5 linked regions of the Homo sapiens genome follow. The protein of the gene in region 5 purifies or fractionates together with the protein of the main gene of each other region. This does not show direct contact. Each region holds a gene or a part of one and is shown on either strand. Other genes may lie near its edges.

What was found.
Region 1: the proteins of ZDHHC18 (region 5) and ZDHHC23 purify together in Homo sapiens (affinity purification with western blotting; one study listed by BioGRID). This does not show direct contact.
Region 2: the proteins of ZDHHC18 (region 5) and TBL1X purify together in Homo sapiens (affinity purification with mass spectrometry, with the first as the bait; one large-scale study listed by BioGRID). This does not show direct contact.
Region 3: the proteins of ZDHHC18 (region 5) and ETF1 purify together in Homo sapiens (affinity purification with mass spectrometry, with the first as the bait; one large-scale study listed by BioGRID). This does not show direct contact.
Region 4: the proteins of ZDHHC18 (region 5) and RNF144A purify together in Homo sapiens (affinity purification with western blotting; one study listed by BioGRID). This does not show direct contact.

Annotation. Positions count from the first base shown.
Region 1 is NC_000003.12:113,958,013-113,960,962, reverse strand, and holds part of ZDHHC23 (palmitoyltransferase ZDHHC23), read right to left. Parts: intron 2,601-2,950; coding exon 2,333-2,600; 3' UTR 1,443-2,332; coding exon of another isoform or gene 1,420-1,442; 3' UTR 244-1,419; coding exon of another isoform or gene 230-243; 3' UTR 1-229. UniProt on the Homo sapiens protein: Palmitoyltransferase that could catalyze the addition of palmitate onto various protein substrates and be involved in a variety of cellular processes.
Region 2 is NC_000023.11:9,685,051-9,688,570, reverse strand, and holds part of TBL1X (F-box-like/WD repeat-containing protein TBL1X), read right to left. Parts: intron 555-3,520; coding exon 296-554; intron 1-295. UniProt on the Homo sapiens protein: F-box-like protein involved in the recruitment of the ubiquitin/19S proteasome complex to nuclear receptor-regulated transcription units. Plays an essential role in transcription activation mediated by nuclear receptors.
Region 3 is NC_000005.10:138,536,727-138,540,246, reverse strand, and holds part of ETF1 (eukaryotic peptide chain release factor subunit 1), read left to right. Parts: intron 1-3,520. UniProt on the Homo sapiens protein: Component of the eRF1-eRF3-GTP ternary complex, a ternary complex that mediates translation termination in response to the termination codons. The eRF1-eRF3-GTP complex binds to a stop codon in the ribosomal A-site.
Region 4 is NC_000002.12:6,923,907-6,927,426, reverse strand, and holds part of RNF144A (E3 ubiquitin-protein ligase RNF144A), read right to left. Parts: intron 1-3,520. UniProt on the Homo sapiens protein: E3 ubiquitin-protein ligase which accepts ubiquitin from E2 ubiquitin-conjugating enzymes UBE2L3 and UBE2L6 in the form of a thioester and then directly transfers the ubiquitin to targeted substrates.
Region 5 is NC_000001.11:26,833,183-26,836,702, reverse strand, and holds part of ZDHHC18 (palmitoyltransferase ZDHHC18), read right to left. Parts: intron 1-3,520. UniProt on the Homo sapiens protein: Palmitoyltransferase that catalyzes the addition of palmitate onto various protein substrates, such as CGAS, HRAS and LCK. Acts as a negative regulator of the cGAS-STING pathway be mediating palmitoylation and inactivation of CGAS.

The sequences.
Region 1 (2,950 bases), on a different chromosome or scaffold from region 5:
AGCCTACAGAACACTGCTCATGGATTAGCCCCTTGTTTGCTGCTCCTTTCGGTACAGACGCCTGGGAAGGCTTTTCCCACACAAGATCACTCATCTTTTGACAGGTTTAAGCATTCTGTCAACTGTCCATCATGGGTTCTCAAGGAACTTAAAACAAGTATCTTCGTGCCAATAAACCTGAATAATACACAGAGTCCCTTCCTATCCATGGGAAGGAAGCGGAGTTGGCTCATCCAAGTAACCCTATTAGAGGTAAGTTGTTAAAAAAAATTGTCATCATTCCTAATTCTCCCAAATTATTTTGGTCTCTTTGTACTACTTATCTTCATCACATCACATTACATTTAGATGTTGTGAACAATTTGGCAAGAAGCTAAAATTACTGACTAATGTTTCTATCAATTTGTATGATCAATGGCTAGATAATCAGAGTTGGCTCTACAGCTGACATTCAAAAGCACGACTACCAATTTCTGCCCACACAGGCTATCCTTGACATTATTACTGTCTCTCTTATGTAAAACCTGTATAGAAAGAAATTTGTTATATCAAATCCAACTTTAATTCTAGATGAATATTCAGCTCTGGGCCAGGGAGAAGGCATCACTGTACAAACCCCAGAGTCTGCTAACATCCCCAGGCACAGAGCCTATCATTCGTTAAACAAACCATCTCTGGGGAAAATGACAACAGCCTGAATAAGAATATGGTGACCATCTTAAGGACAGCTCCAATTAATGGCAACAGTAGGGACGGTGCTGGCTGCAGAGGGTGGAAGTGCAGGAAGTAGCAATATTTCCTCTCAACAAATATAAATCTCTTGCTTAAAGCAGCATGCACAGAATGACTGAAAACGCTGGCAATATTTTCCCTATATTAAGCTATAAGCCAAGGCAAATTTAAGGAGTCATGAATTATCTTTGGGATTGCACAACAGTACATGTTCAAAACTAACATTTCAAAAGGGTATTTTCCTCATCTGAAATTCCCTCATCTTAATTCTATAGTAGAACAACCCATTGTACATAAATATTTAATCTTTTATACATTTTCGGTTTTAAGATATGATTAAAGAAACAACTTGTTATTGTCGGAAGAGCCAGGGAAGAACAGTAATCCATTAATAGTGGAAACCACATATACCCTGTTTCTTCTCTCTTAGTGAGATACTGTTATTTAGGGAGGGGTAATTGAGAATTAATGTGCAAGTTAAGTGGGAAGATGTCACTCAACTCCTCAAAGTTCATACCAGAATAATGTGAATGCCAGAAGGCTGATTTTCACAATTTAGTGCTATAACTGACAGCATTTGAAATACATGAAGAAAATAATCGAGCCCGTGATGTTACTCAGCCTTCCTACCAGAAAAGAGAGTAAAGCATCCCCACAGGAGTGTCTGTTCTCCTCTTCCAGCCACAGTCACAAGTGTGCTAGCACCTTACCTGGTGAAACATGGGAAGAGGAAAAACACATGAATGCCTGTTGGAGTTATTTATAAGAAACCCAAGCAGAATTTATAAAATATAAATAGAAGAACTCATCACCTAAACTCATGGCCACACTACATTACACTAGCAATAATTATCTTTATAACTGTTGTCAACTGTCTTTTCAAGATGAGACAACTTAGCATCAATCCATCTGGTCATCTTCTCTGTTTGAGTAGTTCATGTCTAATAAGAAGGAGAAATTCTCATAACTGTACAACAAGGTATATGCTGAAAACTGATTACCCTAATAATATTGGCTTCAATATTCTAGACTATAAACGTTTTTCTTCCATCATAATATTTTCCTAATACTTTGTATTTCCATGGCTCTTGAGTTGTTTTTTAGTGCTTTCCACATCCATCTTCCCTCACGTGACCCTCATGACGGCTCTGTGAGGTAGCCAGGGCAGGCATCAGTACCCCACTTTGCAGATGACCCTGAGACTTGGGAAAGTGACTCAGCTAGGGGTCACATGGCTATTAAGAATCGAAAGAGGGACTAGAAACTATCCTAATCCAACACTCTTTCCTCCATACTAATGGATGGGAATTGCTTCTATCAATTTGTGCATTAGCAATCCACATCCTTCTCAAGTTCAGGCAACTGAGTCAATTAAAAAGGTGACTGGAAAGGAATGGCTCTACTTTTACTGCCTCAGTATAAAAGTCTCTTAAGTTGTGGCGTCAGAAAAATTAACTTCTTCCCACTCCAGTCTCTAAACCTGAGCATGGCCCTATAATGCCTTTAAGAAACTGGGGATAGAAATGGACACTGAAGTGTAAAATGGAAGGGAGACGGAAGGAGGAGCCATCATCCCTCAGAGAGCCACATAGAAGGCACTTCAGACAATGTCCTCGGCAGGGTGGTGGAATGCACGTGTGCCCAGGGTGGAGAACTGGTGCCAGTTCCGCAGGAAGCCCCTATTGTACTGGCCTGTGTCCACGATGAGCCCGCAGAGGAGCCGGCGCCCAGTCTTCTGTCGGAGGGCCTGCTGGACTTCCCGCTCAGTCACATTGTAGCTGATGTTGATCAGCTGGATCAGGAAGATGTAGGCCATGCCTGCTGTGATGATCACAGAGTACCACACGCAGGTGAAGGACAGAGCCGAGCTAGGAGAGGGAAAAAGGCTGTCAGGGCTGCCGTTTTTGTCAAATTCAGAAAACTGTCATCATTCTCACGTTTTACACATTTTTTTACTTATTACTAAAGACTTTGGCATCTTCCCCAACCCTCCGAACTGGAAGATACTCAGAATGCCAATAACCTGCTTAAGTAGGAGAATGTGTGTGTTTATTCTATAATTACTGGTGCCTATTTTCTAGTATATTACACTAGAATAGCAGGGACTGTTTTTTGCATTTTGTACCCTCCACACACCCAGCACGCTGCCTGACATAACAGCGTTCAACACCTGTTTGTTAAATAAACAAGTAATTCGTAAATTACATCTAACTCATGA
Region 2 (3,520 bases), on a different chromosome or scaffold from region 5:
TGAAACACTTTTGTTTATCACGGGCAATAATCATGTGTTACATGAGAGTTCTCAGATTAGCAGGCGCAGCACGATTTCCTAAAGTTGAAGATGAGGGTGAAGAAGCTCAGGTCCAAGGGTTGTGATGGAAAAAATGGAACGGGAAGTTCTTCCGGCCAGATCGTAAGCAAACACTAGAGAGCAGCTTCTAAGACATTTATAGCAGGCAGGTTTTTAAGAAGGCATTCGGATTTGCCCAAGAAGAAAACAATGAACCCAGAGAGGCCCACCGAACTCCCAGAGCCCCTGCACTCACTGACTGAATGTGCTCTGTTCTCTTCCCCATTCACCGTGGCCTCTCTGTTCTTCGATGGATTTTGGTGGGAAACGCCGGCTGAGGTCGTGGTGGCTGCTGTCGCTGCTGCCGTGGCCGCAGCCGCCGCCGCCGCCGCACTGGCTTGCTGCTGAGCGAGCTTCTCTCGGAATGCCTGCTGCCGCGTCTGCACCACGTCGGGCATCACGGCGTCTATCAGTGACAGGGACTCTATGGGGCGGCCGTCGAACACTGTGCCATCCTGGGGAAGCAAGCCAAGGTACAGCTGTCAGCTCACGGGGGTGAGGGCTCTGGGAATGGCCTCTGCTCTCTGGGCAGGAGAAGCGCAGGGAAGTGGGGCGTAAACAGCTGGCTCCCAGCAACCAGGGGGCCACGGGGGAAGCGGCATGGACCTGGAGCCTGGGGTGAAGGGATCCCACGGTGGGCAGGGAAGGGGACACGACAAACTGTTGGTAAGAACTAAGTGTGATGGTTGTTCTGAGTGTCAAACCCAATTGGGGCATTGAGGACAAAAAGGCCATTTATTCTTGACAGAAAGTGCTATCCCTGATGGCACAATTCTCAACGTGGCGGGGGCGGGGGGTGACTGTGACTCCTTGGGGGGCATTAGGCAACGTCTGGAGACTTTTTTGGCTGTTACAACTAAGGGAGGAGAGGTGCTCCTGGCATCTGGTGGGTGGAGCCCAGGGACGCTGCTCAACATCCAACAGTGCCCAGGATGGCCCCACCACAGAGAAACACGCAGCCCCAAATACTGAGTGCTGCGGTGGAGAAGACCTGCCCACGTGCTATCGCGACTGTGCAAAATCTCTGCAAATGACCATCCATTATATGGGAGGGTAACGCTTCAGAAGCAGAGCCCAAATGAGATGCACACAGCATTTAGGCCTGGATTCCAAGTCCATCTGTCCAGGGGATTTAATAAAATAGGCACTTGCTGCTACTTGAAATGACTCCTTGGGTTCAGGGTTAGACTAACCATAGCCATGACACAATTGACATCATTTTGTTTTGATTCATGTTTTTTTGACCATTCTTTGATTCTCTGATTTCCGTTTACCATGGAAAACTTTCCACACACGTTTAAAAATACAGCAGGAGGTTCTTTCCTTGTGAAACACGCCAGATATTCGAATCAGGTGAACCTCAGTAAGCCTTGGGGTTGTATCTGGATGTGCAAACACATGTTTATATGCTCTGAACCTGAATTACTTCAGAAGTGAGGAAGAACTGAAAGGCTCAGGTTTCAGCTGAAGAATAACTAAATGAAACATCACTCCAGATGATTTCTGATTACAAGACAATATTCAAAATAAAGAAAACAATACAACCTATGTAAAGAACTAGCTGCATCACCTCCTCAGGCACTCTTGGCCCTTGATTCTGGCCATGGAGTGGACAATGGTGACCGATGGGTCAAGACGCTCCCACACCCCCTTCCTCCTTCATATGTTCACACCCAAATGAACAAGCCCATGACAAAACGCGGTAACTGTCCAAAGTAGTAACAACATGTCCTCATTTAAACTCCGCGGGCACACTGTCTCTCTTTTTTCCTTAGAGACGGGGTCTCGCTCTGTCATCCAGGCTGGAGTGCAGGGGCACAGTCATGGCTCACTGCAGCCTCAAACTCCTGGACCAAACTGATCTTCCTGCCTTAGCCTCCGAGTAGCTGGGGTTACGAGCATGTGCCACTGCACCTGGCTAATTTTTTTTATTTTATGTAGAGATAGGGTCTCATTATATTGGCCAGGCTGGTCTAGAACTTCTGGCCTCAGGCAACCCTCCTGCCTTGGCTTCCCAAAGTGCTGCGATTACAGATGTGTGCTACCGCCCCTGGCGTCTCACTTTTTAATGATTAGAAACCATTGTGACAAATGGGACAGTCTTTCATTAGCCCCTAGAGTGCTGGAATCTGGAGTGCCGAGGGAAGGCAACTATGAAGGCTTCTCAACAGATGAGAGGTAGAAGGCAATGAGCAGAGAAAAACAGAGTCACAGGCGCCTTGAGATCTGATGGCTGGCTGGACCTTGGAGACATGTCCTCTTAGATACACACGTGTGTGTTTTGCAGTGAGGAAACTAGACAGGGCCAGAAGGAGTCAGTGGAAGATCCCGGGCACACAGTGTGAAGGGGTTTGCCAGGGAAAAAGGAGCACAAGAGAGGAAAAAACACCGGAGTTTCGAAAGCCACAGCTTTGCGAAAAATGGCAGGCAGAAGTGCAAGAAAGAAAACAGGGACTGGGTACAGTGGCTCACGCCTGTACTCCCAGCACTTTGGGAGGCCAAGGCGGGAGGATCGCGGGAGGATCGCTTGAGCCCAGGAGTTCAAGACCAGCGAGACCTCATCTCTACAAAAAATAAAAAAATTATCTGGACGTGGTGGTGTGTACCTATAAGTTCCAGCTGCTCAGGAGGCTGAGGCAGGAGGATCTTTTGAGCCAGGAGGTTGAGGCTGTAGTGAGCTATGATTGTACCACTGTACTCCCACCTGGGTGACAGAGAGAGACCCTGTCTTAAAAAAAAAAAAAAAAAAAAAAAGAAAAGAAAAGAAAAAGAGAACAGGATATTATTACTTTGTGATTTTCTAAAAGAGTTTTTTAAAGCAGTGTAACATGCTGTGAAGGAGAAAGGTTTGTAAGGGCAAGACCAGTTCCCAGAAAGACGGGACAGAGGGAATCCTGGAAGAATGTGACTGCCAGGTGGGATGGATGACGGTACAGTATGGAAAAGTTCAGTAGAATCACGCGCCTGGGTCAGAGTAGGAGAAAGAGAAGCAGAGGGAGGAAGCTGCAGGGGACTGAGAAATCAGTAACAGGGACTGTCTGTGGTCCCAGTGCTTTGGGAGGCTGAGACAGGAGGATCACTTGAGCCCAGGAGGTCGAGGCTGCAGTAAGCCATGACTGTGCCACTGCACCCTAGCCTGGGCAACAGTGTGAGACTCAGTCTCTAAAAATAAAATAGGGACTCAGGTGAAGGCGGCAAGAAAGGTTGTGGATCCCATTATTCCCCAGAAGTCAAGGGGATCTTCACTGCAGAATCATGAGACCAGAATAGGAGGGGACAAGAGAGGGTGAGGTGTGTGGTTTAAAACCAAAATTGGTATAAAATTGGCACAACTCCTCACTGTGGACCAATGTAAAAAGTGGGAGGGGTTCCAAGCCAAGTGCACAGTTTTAATGTGCATTTATTTTTCCATCCTCCTACC
Region 3 (3,520 bases), on a different chromosome or scaffold from region 5:
GAAAAAGCCCTTTCCTCCCCTTAGCAGTGTAGAATTCTAGGCATAGGAATCATGGATTTGTTTTTAACAGTAGTTATTAAAATATGCTAGAATAAGAGTGATTTTGAAATTAAGATAATCCTATGTGGTTATCTCTTGATATATGACCCAAATTTAATGTAGCTTGAAAAAGGAACCACCTGCAAAATGGGCTCACTAACTACATCTGAATAAAGGGAAGTATGTTGGCAAAATAATTTATTAAGCACATACTATATTATAGACTGTGCTACAGTACATTATTAAGTCATTTAATCCTCACAAGTATTGCCACCATTTGGTAGACAAGGCACCTGAGGCTAAGAGATAATTTGTCCAAGATGTCACAGCAAAAATGTAGCAGAGTTCAGAACTTAAACCAATGTGCTATAATGGGTATATTTTATTTTCAGAAAATACAAAACTAGATTTCCTTAAAATGTAGTCTGAGCTATAACAGATTCTATTTTATGTTACACGTGTGTAGAAGAGCATTTATAGAGGCCACATTACTAAAATGGGGAACTTCATAGCATTCTGTTTTGTAACCAGCATCATACTTAATCTTCTGAGTTGAAAGGAGTGTCACACATAAACTTGATTTTTGATTTGGGTAGAACATGCTTATTTGGTTTCAGATAAGCCTGGTCGAATGTTAGTTTGTGTGTGCTAGTAAAATAACCAGTTAATTATTTTGGTAGACATAGGCCCCACTTAAAGTTGATGGTAGTTCTTCCCTGTTCATGATTGCTCCTGGTATATGCTCCACAGTTGGCTTATGAAGGACAAATGTATACATAAACCAATACTGTGGTTGAGGGTATCTTGAATAAGGAACTAAAACAGGTCAACGTATGTTGGAAAAAGGGGGAGAATTATTGGTTGTTTTTTCCCTTGGTGTTTTCTGAGCAGGCAAGAGGTGGCCTCAGAAATAATGTTGGACACCTTATAGTTTTAAGGTAATGTTAATAAAATCATAACTAGAGCCTGTGCTAGCCAGGGACAGTGGTGAATGTGACAAAGGAATGGACAGTGTTAATTTGGGTTAGGTTGTGTCTGTGGGTGTTAAAATGTCTTCACTTATCTTCACTAGGAAACCTTATGTGTTTCTTATCCAATGAACACTTGGTCAGATAACCCTCATAACCATAACCCTTGTTTGAAGGTCAGTGAGCTTGCAAACTTCTGCTGTAGTGTTTGGACATTTTAAAAACTGTTTACTTAAAAATAACTTGTTGATATCTTAATTCTAAATGAAATAAAATTGGTTGTTCCTGCCCCCAAATATAACCATTTTTAAAGAATCCCCACTGAATTCCTCACATTATATAGATTTAACAGTGTTTTGGCGAGATCATTGAATAGGTTAATGTTTTAAATCTTAGAGATAATTAATATGAACAGATTGCTTAATTTATATACTTTGAATAAATTAAGGTATGTTGGATGTGTTTGAGTACCTTCCCCAAGTAAACATTGTTGGTTAATAGAATATTCACCTAAATGGTGGTGGAAATAATATTCTCAAAGCACTGAATTTCACATTCTTTTTTTTTTTCCCTCACTATCGTTGAAGGGCTGGTTGTAGCTAAAATGATACATTGTGGTCTTTGATACAAATACCTGAACCATTTAAAGTTCAGGCTCATAAAGAAGACTTTTTTTGTCCTCTATTCTGGCTCTTTCCATGCCTCCCTTCCCCCAAACTGTTGGTTAGACAAATTAATAGGCCACATGAGGACTGGGCACGTTGACTCACACCTGTAATCCCAGCACTTTGGGAGGCCAAGGTGGGTGGATCACTTGAGGTCAGGAGTTCAAGACCAGCCTAGCCAACATGGTGAAACCCTGTCTCTACTAAAAATACAAAAATGAGCTGGGTGTGGTGGCTTGCACCTGTAATCCCAGCTACTCGGGAGGCTGAGGCAGGAGAAATGCTTGAACCTTGGAGGCGTAGGTTGCAGTGAGCCGGGATTCCGCCACTGCACTCCAGCCTGGGCAACAGAGTGAAACTCTGTCTCAAAAATAATAGGGGCCCAGGCCGGGCGTGGTGGCTCACGCCTGTAATCCTAGCACTTTGGGAGGCCAAGGCAGGTGGATCACCTGAGGTCAGGAGTTTGAGACCAGCCTGACCAACATGGAGAAACCCTGTCTACTAAAAATACAAAATTAGCCAGGCATGGTGGTGCATGCCTGTAATCTCAGCTACTAGGGAGGCTGAGGCAGGAGAATCGCTTGAACCTGGGAGGTGGAGGTTGCGGTGAGCCGAGATTGCGCCATTGCACTCCAGCCTGGGCAACAAGAGCAAAACTCAGTCTCAGAAAAAAAAAAAATAATAATAATAATAGGGGCCTGGTGCGGTGGCTCACGCCTGTAATCCCAGCACTTTGGGAGGCCAAGGTGGGCAGGTCACAAGGTCAGGAGATCGAGACCATCCTGGCTAACACAGTGAAACCCTGTCTCTACTAAAAATACTAGCCAGGCATGGTGGCGGGCACCTGTAGTCCCAGCTACTCGGGAGGCTGAGGCAGGAGAATGGCTTGAACCCGGGAGGCGGAGCTTGCAGTGAGCCGAGATTGCGCCACTGCACTCCAGCCTGGGCGACAGAGCAAGATTCCATCTCAAAAAAAATAATAATAACAATAATAATAAATAAAGACCACATGAGAAAAAAGTCAAGAACTAGACTATTTTAAGTTTTGTGAGAAGAGATGAATATAGAACAAACAACTACAGACTTCTCACTCTTTCCAAATTTTGGTTTCCACATGTGTAACTATGGACATTAATCTTGGATTAGGTGGTAACAGTTGAGATAATATGGGTTAAAATACTTAACACCACATTTGCCACATAGAGAGTGCTCTGTAATGTTAGCTCTTTCCTTTTGTATATACAAACATTGATTCTGTAGAGATACCCTAATGGAGAACTGTATTATTAAAAGATCAGGATACAGATGCCACAGGTCTGAACTATGAGAAAGAGGAGAAATAGATGAGAGAGAAAAGAGGTAGTAAAGGGAAGAGGACAGAGTATATATGTTAGAAAGGATGTGGTGGTGGTCCTTAGTTTCCTCCAAGTATGTAGGCTGCCTGCTTCAACTCAGAACTAGTCCTAACAGCCGTTGTATCTGGCATGGTGTTCTATGCACTGTGAACCTAATGAACAATTACTCCCTTTGAATTTCAAGTCTTGACAGACCTCCTATTGTAATAGCAGATATACTTATGCTTCCAGGGAAGGAAGGCTTACTCTGGACATATTGCAAGGTAAGCAAGAGTACATAATTAGAGTATCATTTAAGGCAGAGTGCTGTGTAGGTTATAGGTCTCTCCCATCCTCCACACCAGTTGGACCCTTTCTTCACAGGGCTCGTTTTCTTTGAACTTGAGATTGAGGATCGGCCCAGTACAGCACCACCCCCTGTCCTGGGATGGTACTTCATTGTTAAAAAAGTTAGTGTCAGCTTTGCAGCAGGGCTATAAATGGTCTTCGATCC
Region 4 (3,520 bases), on a different chromosome or scaffold from region 5:
AAAGGCTGGATCCACTGCACATGGCCAGGGACAGAAAAAAAACAAGGTCACTGTCAAGGAAGCAGAGCTGCAGGCCAAAGGGAGAGAGTCCCAGGAGTGATTAAAGTATTAACAGATAAGAAATGCTTCCCTCGGCCAATCAGCAGGCAGAAATTGTGCATTCCTTTCAGGAGGAGCTGCAAACACATCCTTCTGAGTCTTACTCAGGCTTTCACAGTTGACAGCACAGTACCTGGCCTAGAGTGAAGGCTACACAAATATTTATTCGGCATATGAAAAACCCTGCACCTAAAATCCTGTGCTATTTCACAAACAGGAGACGTGAAGAGCAGGCAATCTCACGGGACCAACAGGGCTTACTATGTGTTCTGGTTGTTTTTACTACAGTGAAACTGGACTCAACAAAGTACCGCAAGTTTAAGAGATGAATCCCTGCCATGTGGACTCCAGAACGGTAAACTCTCCCTTGTTTCAGAAAGGGCACCCCCGCTCTGCCCCATCCCTTCCTCTCTGCAAGTCCTCACCTTCACTATATAGTCCTCAATGTGTCTTTGAATCCCTGGTACCAAGTAGTTTTTGCCAAATGATGGATTAAAGAACAAAAGTAAATAAACAACAACAACAATAGAAATAAAGAGTAAGATATTCATGAATATTATAGTGAATGAATGTGGCTGTTTCTGGACTCAAATGTCTTTGAAGGGAAAAGACGCAGATTCATTTCAACAAATATTTATTGAGCGCCTCCTATGAGAAGCCTGTGTGCCGAGTGCTAGAGGGGTACAAAGACAACCAGGACAGGACTGGGATTCCCAGCCCACACTGTACCCACACCGAACCTATTGATGGAACACACAGGTGTGCATAGCCCCACACCTGCAACCTTGAAGCCGCATGCATATGGCTCTGGGCCTAATCCATATGGGCTCCTGCTTTGCCAGGAAGAGCAGGTAAGAGAGGGAAAGGCAGTTTTATCAAGGCCTAGCACGGCCAACCCCTGCACGGGGCAGTTCTCTCGCATGTGTTACCAGTCCAGTCCTCCAGGACCACCTCCCAGGCAGACCCTCATTTTCTCTCCTTCTCTTTCTCCAGGAGCCGGCCACGCAGCCCAGCTCTGGCACTGGGCCCTGAACAGAGTCAGCCACCAAACTTTTGGAAAAGCTTGTCGCTTCTTGACAAAAACGGACAGATGCAGCTGACACCAACTCCCCCTCCTCTCTCACTGCCTTCAACACAGATGTGGCGCAGCTGTGGCCAGCCCTTTTGCATGATGGGGCAAAGGAAAACATGCTGAGGATGGCAAAGTGAAAGAAGAGAGAACCTGGCTCTCAGTAACATCCCAAGCCGCTGCACCAGCACCTGGAAGCAAGCACCTACCTTCAGTGCCTTGCTATTAAGGAAACAGAAAGCTGTTTAAGTCCTTGTTAGTAAGTGCTATGTTGCTGGCCAAACATATGCTAACACATCCAAACACAAACAAACACTATGCCTGATACTGGTACATATATATGTGTTGTGTGTATTGATGCATGTGTATGTGTGTGTTTGTGTGTGTGCGCACACGTGTGTGTTGAATCATGTCTCCCCCAAAGGATATATTGAACTCCTAACCCCTGATGCTTATGAATGTGACCTTATTAGGGTGTTTGCAGATGCAATCAAGAGAAGATGGGATCAACAGGCTTGGCCCTAATCCAACATGACTGAAGTCCTTGTGAGAAGAGGTGCACCCCCAGCGCAGAGACAGAGAAGACAGCCACATGAAGATGCAGGCAGATATCAGAGAGAATCATCTACCTGTATTCTGCGCCTTGAACCTGCCCTTTACCTGCGGCTTGCCCACATCAGATCCTGAGGTTCCTGCCTGCTTCTGTCCTTGGATAAATGGGAACTCTTACTCTCATATCTGGCCACTTTCACCCCTACACATGATAACAAGAAGAAAGTAAAGAGAGCAACTGGGGGGGAAGGGGGAGGACAGAAGCTGAAACACAGATGGTTTCTTAGTGTCTCACAATGGATTAAATAAAGAGATTTCTTTTTCTTTTTCCTAATACACCTGGCCCTATCCACCACTCTGCCGGCCACCAATGACCAGACTGGCTCAGTTTTCAGGGCCTTGGATAGTGCTTCACTGAGACAAGAAGAAGAGAGAAGGGCCTGCAATCTGTGAGTGAGATCTGTGAGGATACAGCCAGCCCCATCCCATCCACACCAGGGATTACAATCACTTACTTCTGCCAAGTGGTTAGAAGGAAATGCAAGTGTTTTAGTCAAGAGAGTTCAGATCTAAGGTGCCAACTCAGAAAGTCTCCTGGAAGCTCTTTGGATGCCACTGCCCTAGGCTACAAAGCTCCAGTGCATACGCTATCAAAATTCGCCGTGTGGCAATCGAGGTCGCCAGAAAACTCACAGAAGGACCCAGGTGCTTCCTGACATTCTCCATCCGTCAAAGAGCCAGCCCCAAGGTCTCTGGAAGCCCACACCCTTCCCAAAGCAAAGGCTCCCTTGGAGCACACAGCCTGTGTTATGCTTGTGAGTGCACAACTGGCACCACAGACCATGGGCACATAAGTTACTCAGAAAACGGATTCCTCAGAGACAGAGAATACAGTGAACACAAAGGATGGCTCCTCACACACTTCACAGCACACTTAGCAGTTGCACTTCTTCAACTCTTATACAGGAAGAACCACAAGAATCTCTGGCCCTGGGGCCCTACCTGGCAAGTTCCTCCAAGGCACTGGCGAAAGCATCCTAGTGTTTCATGAGAGGCCCGCACTCGGAAGGGAGATGGAGGCCCCTCCTCTGCTGCTCCTGAGCGTTCATCCAACAGCCCTGTCTCCTCAGCATCCTCCAGAACAAACCCTGCCCGTCCTGGGTCTTTGCCCTGCTCTGGGACAGCTCAGAGCACCCCCTTCTCTACACTCCCCAGCTCTCCAAAGCCCACCTATGCTGAGTCCCATTTCCACAATCGCTTCCTCACCAGACTCCCAGGACATGCGCTCGGATGGGCACATTCAGGCGCTTGGTTCTAACCATTCCACATTATGCATCTCCCTTCACATCGCAGGCAAAGGCCACGTCCTATGCTTCCCGTGCATCGCACAGTGCCTCGGGCCCCCCAGCAACACGGCCACGGAAGTCTCGCCAGCTGTTACTCTGGATCTCACTTACATGGTGTCTACACAACCACGGTACCCAGGATTCTCTCTCTGCATTCCAGGCCACCAGGCTACATTCTACCATCCTCACTCTTAAACCCAAGCAAATATTCCCATCTGACTTCTCAGGGTCTTAAGGTGTATTGTTCTGTGACCTGACCTAAAGAGAGAACCTGGTTTACTCGGATCATGATGGAATACAGAATTTACACTCGAATTCCATTTCTTCATTCATAATCTGTTCCAGGCTTCCCTCTTGAACCAGGTTTCTCTATCTTGTATTCAATCACTTAACAAAAATCCATTCAGAAAGAGCATGATAGGCACTGAGAGAATGTAAAAATGAGTAAGTTCCT
Region 5 (3,520 bases):
CAGCTACTCGGGAGGCTGAGGCAGGAGAATGGCATGAACCTGGGAGGCAGAGGTTGCAGTGAGCTGAGATTGTGCCACTGCACTCCAGCCTGGGCAACGGAGCAAGACTCCGTCTCAAAAAAAAAAAAAAGAAAAAAAGAAAAAAAAAGAAATGAAGGTACAAGGCGGGATGCAGAAGGAAAAATCACAAAGGCTGGACTCATATCACTGATATGCTGAGGGCACCAGAGAGTCACCCAAATTCTGTGGGGTTTGTGGGGGGACAGGGCAGGGGTGGGGAGAACAAATTTGGGATCTTGGAGAGATAACTACAATTGAAGGGAAAGGCCCAGTCAGGGCCTGTTCTGCAGAGCCCTGAGCCAGTTCAGGTGGAACACGAGGCAGGTCTGTCCAGGGGAAGTGGGCAGAGACGTCCTGGAGACAAAGGAGATGGGGTCTGGGAGCTGGTGTATGGCAGTGGAGAGAGACGCAGCCTCTGTGTCCGTCATGTGAACTGTAACAGGGTCTAAGTGAGCATCTGTCACTTGGATTTGGATGTCTCTATCACCTCCCATCAGACCAGGAGCTTCTGGGAGCAATATTGCTCTTCCCAACTGCCTAGAGCCTGCAGGGTGAGCCAGCTGCACAGCCCACCAGCCGGCAAGACAGGATCTCAGATGAGGGTGACCGAGTGCCCTGATTTTCCTGGGATTGAGTGGTTTCCTAAGACAGGAGACTTTCCAGGTGGTCCTGGGTAAACTGGGAGGAGCTGGTCACTCTACCTCAGACTGTCCCCACAGGGCAGGAGCCCTGGGCCAGACCTGTTGGGCTGGAGTTGCTGGGCTGGGGTGCCAAAGGGAAAAGCCCACACTGTCTACATGAGCCTAGGACCAGGTAATCAGTTCATGCTCACATGAACAGCACCACCTGCCTCAGAGACAGCTCCCAACCTTCTGGAAAAGGTTCAGTGATCTTAGTCCTGATCATTTTCGGGGAAATATGTTTTTGGTTTTTTTTGTTTTTTGAGACGGAGTCTTGCTCTGTCACCAGGCTGGAGTGCAATGGCGCAACCTTGGCTCACTGCAACCTCCGACTCCCTGGTTCAAGCGATTATTCTGCCTCAGCCTCCTGAGTAGCTGGGATTACAGGCACACGCCACCATGCCCAGCTAATTTTTGTATTTTTACTAGAGACAGGGTTTCACCATGTTGGCCAGGATGGTCTCAATCTCCTGACCTTGTGATCCGCCCGCCTCGGCCTCCCAAAGTGCTGGGATTACAGGCGTGAGCCACTGTGCCAGCCCTGGGAAATATGTTTTACTTTAATTAGTTAGAAGTCTCCTGGTCACACCCAAAAATTTGGCTTCTATTCAAGTTTGAGAATTCAAAGGCCTCCAAAATGCCACTTTTGCACTTTGCACCTGTTCGCCAAGAAAAGTCTTAGGGACATTCAGCGCCCTACAAGATTGATTCCACCCCATCCTTCCAACTGGAATATCTCTAATATCCCTAACTATCTGAAGTGCTCCTCATATTCTAGCCAACGTGGCCTGCTCAGTGGCCCGTTCCCATCCCTCCTCCTTCCCTCTGCCACTCTCTCTTCCCTCAGCTTTGTCTGCCTGAAGGGCTGCCTCCGCACAGCTCCTGTGCTTGAATTCCACCCAAACTTAAAGACTTAGCTCAAGCATCACTTCTCCAGGAAGCTTCTCCAGTCCCCCAGGCAGAAGATGCTCCTGACTCCTCTGACCCTCTTCTAAAGCCTGATCTCACTGGCAGTGGCTGGTCAGGGCTCCCACCTGGGGCCAACTTGTCTGGAACCCATGAGAGTAAGCTCCTATCAGATTCATTGTTGGCCCCCACCTGCCTTCACTCTGCTGTCAGGGGTCAGCATATAGAATTAACACACAAATGAACAAACCCATGATGCCCAACTGGGAGATGTCCTGACTGTTTCCTCACCTGTCACCCTGACAGAGCAAGGAGGGCCTTCACAGAAGCTCACCTATTCTTCAGTCATTCATTTACTCATTTAGCCAACGTCACTGAGCCTTCTACATGGCGACAAGGTGAACAAGATGCTGGAATTCCATGCCCTCACAGGCCAGCAGAAAGGATGATTTTGTAATGACCACCGTTGCAGCACAGGTTCAGAGAAGGAAGGAGAAGGTGCTCTGGGAATGTGCAATGGAAGGCCTGGCCCAACTGGGGTCAAGAAGGCTTCCCAGAGCACAGGAAACAAGTGGAGAAGAGGATGAAGGAGATGTGTCCCTGCTGCCATCTCAGAAGAGAAAGCAAGGGGTTTGGGAGTGAAAGGCACACACTCTGTCTCTGCTTCTTTATCCTGGCCCTGTGATCACCTGCCTCCGTTTCTCCATCAGTACAATTGGTTAACAGGGTCGCCCTCACTGGGCTGTTGTGAAGATTTGTGGGGATAATAGATGGAAAGCACTCAGCACACGGCCAAGCTCTTTCCAAGAAGGGGATTACTGCTGTCACTGTGATCCACGCAGCTCACAGGAGGCCGAGGATTCCAGGCAGCCAGACCTCTGGGTCCGGCTGAGCTGGACAATAATCCTGCCTCATGATTAGCCCTGACCAGAAGGGGAGGAAGAACGGGGCACAGCTGGGCCTCCCCAGCTGCCAGGTGGGCCAGCCCAGGTCAGACCGTGGGATCCTGAAGGAGTGGCCAGGGACCCAGAGTTTGAAGGGGTAGGACGCTGGATGTAGGTGAGAGGAGGTGGCCCTCGCAGGCGTGGCTGAGGATGGGGCTGGGCAGAGGAATGAGACAAAGAGCAGACAGAGCCCAGAGAACATCCTCTCCAGCTGCTCGCCCTCCCTCCCTCCCTGCTGCACAGAGTATTAGTGAAATGATTTCTAGCGATGGATGCAGCAGGGCTCTGACATTTACAGGCCACTAGATGTCTTCAGGGCCAGCTGGGTGTTTAAAAGCCTGTGTGAACACCATGCTGTTAGGGGAAGGAGCTAACCACGGACCGGAAACCCCCGAGGTGTGCAAGTAGCCACGTCACTTCTCAGCAGGAAGAGCTGGGGTGCAGCAAGCTGAGATTAGGGACCTGGCCCAGTACCCCGCCACCCCGGAACCCACACAGCAGTCTGAAAGGAATCAAGGGCCACCTGGGCTGCCTGGGAGCACAGGGTCTTTCCAGCCACTGCCGTTCCTCACACACGCCCAGGCTGTTTGCCACTCTGGGCTTTGGCCTTACTTTTCCCAGATCCCCGTATTTCTACCACACTCATCTCCAGTGCCGCCTCCTCCTAGAGGTCTCCCCTGACCACCTGACCTAAACTAGCCCACTCCCCAACACCTACTGGGCTCTTCCCTAGATAACCCCACCGTCAAGCCCTCATCTGTTCAGGCCGGTGCTTCTTTGCTCAGATGTCACCTCCTTCACAAGATGTTCCCTGGCCACCCTATGTAAAATCACACACCCTCCCTGTAGCCTTCATCCTCCTTCCCTCCTTTCTTCTCTGTCTGATATCCTAGATATTTAATTATTTGTTATTTATTGTCTCTTTCCTCC